Linked DNA regions of Homo sapiens. The protein of the gene in region 1 purifies or fractionates together with the protein of each later gene. This does not show direct contact. Each region holds a gene or a part of one and is shown on either strand. Other genes may lie near its edges.

Region 1 (2,940 bases):
ATCTGTGAAGTTGTATTAATATAAGTAATTGCGTGGTCCTTCCACGAGAAATAGCAAAGATTGATAAACCTCTCAGTCTTATGATCGTGAATAAAATTCCTGAGTGTAAAACAATGAATCGATATACTGAAAAAAAGAAAGACCGCTGTTAAAAATAAAATTAACAATTAAAATTAAAAAGACGTTATAATAACGTAAAAGACATGATATAAAATTAAATGTAAACAAACAATACATTTAAAAAGCAATAATTAGAAAAATAGTAGGAATAAGATTTTAAAATACAATGGAAAAAAACAAATTTTAAATTTGCCAAAAACTCTAAGAATTCTACAATCGTAAAATAGATTTCTCAAAGTGAAAACAGATACGAATGAAATATTTAATGAAATAAATACAAATATTTAAAATACAAGGAAACTGAAAGTAATAAGCGACGCGAAACAAGAAAGAAACATAAGGGAAAAAGAGAATTTAAAAACTGACAACCAGCAATGAAAGCACATCTTAATGTATTTTTATTTTCTAGGTGGAGACGTTTGGTAACTGAGAATCTTTTCAAGGAGGAGAATCCAAAAAGCCTTCTGCTGCTATCTAAGGCTGCTTAGCTCCACAGATCCGTGAACAGCACGCCCAGAGTACAGAGAACGCGGCAAAACCAACGCGAAGAATCCACTCCAGGCAGTCTGAGAAACCCGGGAGGTGGCGCCACGGCTGGAGGGCAGGAGGATGGCGGCGTTCCAAAAGGCACCCGCTGTCACAGACCTCGGTGTCCTGCTGTCTGTCCCAGGGATGGAGAGGACTGCTCCAGGGAAGCTGCTGGAGCCTGAGTCTGTCGGGTTCCTCTGCCTGCCCCACCTCTTCTACGGGTGCCTCTTGCTGCTTCTGTGTCCCCGGCCAACTGAACTCAGTGGGCTTCGCTGTACTTGGTTCCAAGGTGCTCTGGACTCCAGGAGAGAGTCCGTTTTGCCAGTAGACTCCGGGCAGCCGCCAGCAAGGGCTGGAAAGCAGTCCCAAATCACAGCTGTCCAGTGAGTACTCTCCTAGTACTGGATACAAAGGAAGAGGCCACGGCCCACGATCTTCTGAACTCACAATAGGTGGAGGCTGGGGCTCTGGCGCCACCTCTGCGGAATCCCAAGCCCGCTTCACACAGCCAAGAAAATGTTGCTCCATCCCTCAAGCCTCAGACCAACGTTTGCGCTGATCAAGGAGGGAGAGTCTCTGCACTACCATCAGCCTGAGTATTTATGCTCTGCAGAGCCCGTGGGCGGAGGCCAGTCAGATATTAAGAAACTCAGTAGTAACAAATGCACGAAAATTAGTAGACAAATGAAAAACGATAACATTTTAGAGAGTACATAGAACCAAAACGAACCGTAATTCCGACAGAAAAACATGGCGAGAAAAGAAACCGAAATGAAATGACACTAAGCAAATCTTGAAGAGAACTAGCGCTACAGAACGCAGGTATTCAAGAGCGCGCAAGGGCCAAGAACCACCCGTTTCCGGGAAATGAGCGTTGCTGCCACCGGAAAACTGTCTGCTAGGGCTCTGCCCTAACCACCTTGCAAACGAGAAACTGGCGCGTTGAACTTAGCAAGCGCCGGCACCTAGCGGATAGCGCTGGTATTGCCAAACAAATATCCGTTTTGGCGCCGTAAAGGGTGCTGCTAAAGAGAAACAGCATGCTCTTAGAACTAAGAGCGGTGCTTCCACACCTAAACAACCTGTTTGGAGGAATGAACCAACTCTGTTTCAATGTGTTGTACCAGAAAAATGTGTTGCGGCATTTAATGTGTTTTAATCCGTTCAATGTGTTTGATAGGTTTAATATGTTTTAACCCGTTTTAATGGGTTGTGACAGAAAAAGCGCCGGCTAATGGTACCACACAATTACTAGTGCGAACAGCGGCTCGGTGCAATCACCGTTCTGCACGGCAAAACGGGGTTCAGGAAGTTCCTAGGAGATACTAGCGGTTGTAGGAGCGAAAAAGTGACAGCACTGAGAACCTAAGGACCCCGCGAACGGGAAATGTCACGTTGGGTGCAGCAACTGAGAAAACGCCCAGTGGGCGCCACTGGCAAACGTGCTGATACAAAACCGCCAGCTCTGCATAGGAAGCGGAGCCTCCAGACAGAACCCGGAACCTGATACCAGCGAGGCTAAGACCGAGCTCGGCTCCCCGGCTCCTGAGAGAATGAAAGTCAAGAAGCACGAATCTGAGACGCTCAAAATTAGAAGAAAAAAAAAATACATAATTTAAAATAATGAAAGTCTGAAATGCAAGTAAAAATGAAAAACACATCGGTAACATTGTCCTCAGAGCAAGACACAAAAATAATTTTAAGGTAAGCAAAAGTTACAGAGAACCAACCCTACAAAGAAGAAATTACAAATATGGCTAAGCGATGCAATGCCTACCATTAGAATATTTCTGTCAGATCTAAACCCCTGCAGGTTGCTCCTGTCATAATTTCCTACGAGAAAAAAAACAAAAATATCCACGGTTAAACGTGTTTAGCTACGTCTAAAAAATCGTAGTAGCTGGTACATCCCGATTTGGTCTACAAGAGGAAAAAGTCTCGATGGGCAGGACTTGCTATTGTCAAAGGGAGCTTGGTAAAACTGAGACATCGCGATCGCCGGCATTTCCTGACTTCCACGGGAGTTTTAAAAACACACAAGCATAGCTAAGACAGGACTCGATATTGCGAAACCAAACTTGGTATAAGAGCTCCCAACACTGCTAAACTGGTCATCGCTAAACCTTTAAAAAAAAAAAAAAAGCATTCGCTGGTACCCAGATTTCCACAGGAGTTAAACATTTCCTGCGCAGCTAAAGCAAGTCTTACCAGTAGGAAACCGGAACTTGCTAGGACTAAGAAACTTGAGGCTAGGCTGACCCCATGGTTGTTATGATTAGAAATCCGAGGCCA
Region 2 (4,034 bases), on another chromosome or scaffold:
ATTATATTCTAATTATCTGAATATTGGTAACTTGTGTCCTAGCCTTTACTAAACAATACTCTATCCTTTCATCATGATGGATTAGAGATTTTTATTATAGTATTTTGCTATAAATGGCAATTATGATAGTTTCCATTTATTGTTGCGTATTCTGTACCAGTTTTTCATGTATGATTAAACAGTCATCAGTGAAGATGAGGAATTATCAGATACTCTGATTACAGAAGAAAGAGACTGAGAGTAAGTACAGTGTTGACTACTCTTCCACAGTTATCTTTGTTAGTTTTGTAACCTCTACAAAAATGATCTTACAAGATAAGAATATACAAATGAAGAAACAGGTCCAGAAATGCTAAGTCTTTCAACATTATATAGCTAAATAAATAGAAGAAGCACCTGGCTTCAAAACTCACAGTCTTTTTTTGCCCTATATTTCCAGTCTGAAGAAAGAATAAAGGCAGGGTATAATACTTTAAATTCCAAATAGTTGGCACTGAATAGTCAGCTAAGACATGGATAAATATCTGGTACTGGGACAGAAGGTGGTTTTGTTCTACCTATAGGAGGTATATAGTCCTGTCATTCCAGGAAAGAAGTTGAAAAGAGGTACAATATACTGATGTATCACATTCAATCTGTTGCCAGATCCATGTTACTATTCAGGAAAAAAGAGTTGAGGAAGAAAAGAAAAACAGGTGACACATCTAAGTACTTCCTATGTGCTCATTACTTAACTAGTTCACAGCATTTTTAATAATTCAAGAATCAATTTGCAAATACCCAGATAACAGTTCTAACTGTTATTTCAAAGCCTTAACTACTTCTAGTAAATTGTTAAGGAATTTTAGATTTTTCCTCTCAAAACTGTGAGAGTAATAATAAAAATCTTCCATATTATCTTGAAAGAAACTATAGCAAATAGAAAAAGAGCCTGATGTTAGATGTCTCAAGTTTACTGGTGCATTTTTTTTTTAAGCTATGGTGTTTCAAGGGGATTTGTGTATGAACATAGGTAACAAATATCGTCAGGCACGGTGGCTTACGTCTGTAATCCCAGCACTGTGGGAGGCTGAGGCGGGTGGATTGCTTGGACCCAGGAGTTCAAAACCAGCCTAGGGCAACACAGCAAGACCCCATCTCTACAAAAAATACAAAAATTAGTTAGGTGTGGTGGCATGCACGTGTAGTCTCAGCTACTCAGGGTGCTGAGGTGACAGAATCACCTGAGCCTGGGGAGGTTGAGGCTGCAGTGAGCCATGATCGCCACTGCACTCCAGCCTGGGTGACAGAGTAAGACTCTGAGACCCTGTCTAAAAACAAAAACAAATGTCAAATTCAGGGCAATTTTTCTAAATGAGGTAATCTTATAAGAGGTATTAGTGATATCAAAAGCTCAAACAAGAAGGCTAAAGATTCAGTTTATTACAGTAGTTAAAAGCATGGACTATGAAATCAGACTGTGTAACTGGAACTAGTTATTGAACTTGTCTGTACCTTGGTTTCCTCATCTTTAAAAACAAGGAAATAGCTGTATAGCTGCCTGTAAGAGTTGCTTTAAAATTTGAACAAGACAACTAATATAAACAATTCGAAAAGGCTGACAGATGGCAAACACTCTGGAAGTACGGTCATATACCATATAACAAGATTTCAGTCAACAAGGGACTACATGCCGATGGTAGTCCCACAAGACTATAATGGAGCTGAAAAATTCCTATCACCCAGTGATGATGTAGGTGTCTTAACATCACAGCACAATACATTACCTTTTTTACGTCTAGATATGTTTAGACTCAAATGCCATTGTATTACAATTGTCTATTTACTACAGTAACATGCTGTACAGGTTTCTAGCCTGGGAACAACAGGCTATACCTTATAGCCTAGGTGTATAGTGCTGTACCATCTAGGTTTGTGTAAGTGCACTTCATGATGTTCCCACAACAACAAAATCACCTAATGATGCATTTCTCAGAACATATTCCCGTAGTTAAGAGATACGTAGTTTTAATAGAATTATTCTAAAATGCATAAAAAATTACCAAACCATTAGAAGAATTTAGTATATTCTGACCTCAAATACTACAAGGCTTTGTACTAATTATTAACCAAAATAAGAATATCTCTACTACAAATTCATGGAAAAGACAGGAAAGTAGGCATAGATAAATGGGAAGTGGACCAAATATCTTTCAAATTCATTGAATTTGTTTACTTAAAATAGCATGTCATGCTGGTAATATGCTTGGATCAATAAAAACAGATTGGCTTTGGTAAAATAGATGTAAAATGGGGAAATACTGGAAAACAGCTGTAAGCATGTATATGCTTATCCTGTAAGATGATTTCCTAACGTATGAAATCCAAACTATTAACCATGGGATTCAACCTCTATCAGATGTCACGTTTCATTTTCCATTGCCCTGTCTCAGTCAACCCTTTTAACTCTCTACCTCCATATGCTCTGTGCCTGCCTCTCTTATCTACCCAGGCAGACCTCTATCTTATATTACACCATATGATATTGCAATTGTCTTATATGCCTAGTTTTTCCTACTGGATTTGAGCTTTCAGTGAGATTAGGAACTATGTCTTGACTATCTTTGTGTCTGTTGTGTCTAGCACAGGACTTATCACAAAGCAAATGCTCAGTATACATTTAGTGAATAAATGATTTTAAAATGAATGATTCTCAAAAATCAATTATTAAAAAAAAATCACAGAAAAGAAACCCAGATCACTTATGGCCAACCTTAAAAGGTATCACTTTCTTTTTTTACACAAAAACTAATACTTTACTTCATGAAAATATGTTCTGAAATATGAGACCATTCAAGTCTGTATCTCTTAAAATGTTCAGTGTTATTTGGTAATAAAAGCATAAGGAATAATACAATAAATATCCTTATTTCGAATACACAGCCTGAGAAATGAAACATTAACAACAGTTTTAAGTTGCATAATACTTGTTTTCTAGCTTTCTGTTGATTTTATAGGGCAAAACCAAAGACAATTTTAAAGTGTAAGCATTTAAATAAATAAAAGTACACCATTGTGCTTTGTTTCCTTAACTTACTTTTCTGTTTTGAAGAATATTGCACAACCATCTACATGCTTTCTCTCCTGCTCAGACATGATTTTGGCACGTGACTTTGGAGAAAAAAATCCATCATATCCACGCTCCTTCAATGCTGGCAGAAAGAGAGTGAAGTATTGCTCTGTTTCCACTTCCTGAGATGAAAGAAAAGTTATCATCTATATGACAGAGGGAAAATGCTGATTAAGATATAAAAATGTTCAGCATTATGAGTAAGATGTAACTTAGTAAAAATAATTCACATAGCAAATATTATCTTACTATCTTACCTGATTGCTAGCAGCTGCTACTTGACAATGGCAGCTTTTTAAACATGAAAGAACCAGAAAGGTGACATGATTTTCTCATGCTCACACAGATAGTAACAGGAGTAGGACTACATCCCAAGGTCTCTTGATTCCCAATTTACAGTTCACTCCATTATACTTTACTTCCTCAAGACTGGCAACTAAACAAAGCAAGTTGGGTATATGATAGATTCTGTGATAGGGAATAGTAATTTATATATAAAAAGGTAATTTAAAAACTTGCATATCCTTCTGAACTATGGTGGAAAGAAATGATACCCAAGAGTGAGAAACGTAAAATCTATCCACAAAAAATTCTACTTTAAGAAATTTTTAAGTACCTAAATCGCAATCATCCAATGGCCTCTATTAATTTAATAATTATTAGTCTATTTTATTCTTTGACTCATAAAATATTTTAACAGGTCTTTCTAAATGAAATAAATATGAAGATAATTTATGTATGCAGATGTTTCTAACAGCATGAGTTTATGACAGCAAAAACCCATAAACAACTAAATGTGTCCAATGGTATGGGAAAAGCTACATCAATATACGTTCATATAATTAATGAGTTTTGAAGAATTTTAGTAACATGGAAAATCCATTAAGTACAATAAATAAGAATCAAAATGTATCTGTAAATATAT

What was found.
Region 2: the proteins of ANXA2R (region 1) and CNOT6L purify together in Homo sapiens (affinity purification with mass spectrometry; one large-scale study listed by BioGRID and IntAct). This does not show direct contact.

What each region holds. Positions count from the first base shown.
Region 1 is NC_000005.10:43,038,871-43,041,810, forward strand, and holds ANXA2R (annexin-2 receptor), read right to left. Parts: upstream 1,450-2,940; 5' UTR 1,177-1,449; coding exon 595-1,176; 3' UTR 501-594; downstream 1-500. UniProt on the Homo sapiens protein: May act as a receptor for annexin II on marrow stromal cells to induce osteoclast formation.
Region 2 is NC_000004.12:77,739,065-77,743,098, forward strand, and holds part of CNOT6L (CCR4-NOT transcription complex subunit 6-like), read right to left. Parts: intron 3,256-4,034; coding exon of another isoform or gene 3,232-3,255; coding exon 3,077-3,231; intron 1,140-3,076; coding exon of another isoform or gene 1,044-1,139; intron 1-1,043. UniProt on the Homo sapiens protein: Has 3'-5' poly(A) exoribonuclease activity for synthetic poly(A) RNA substrate.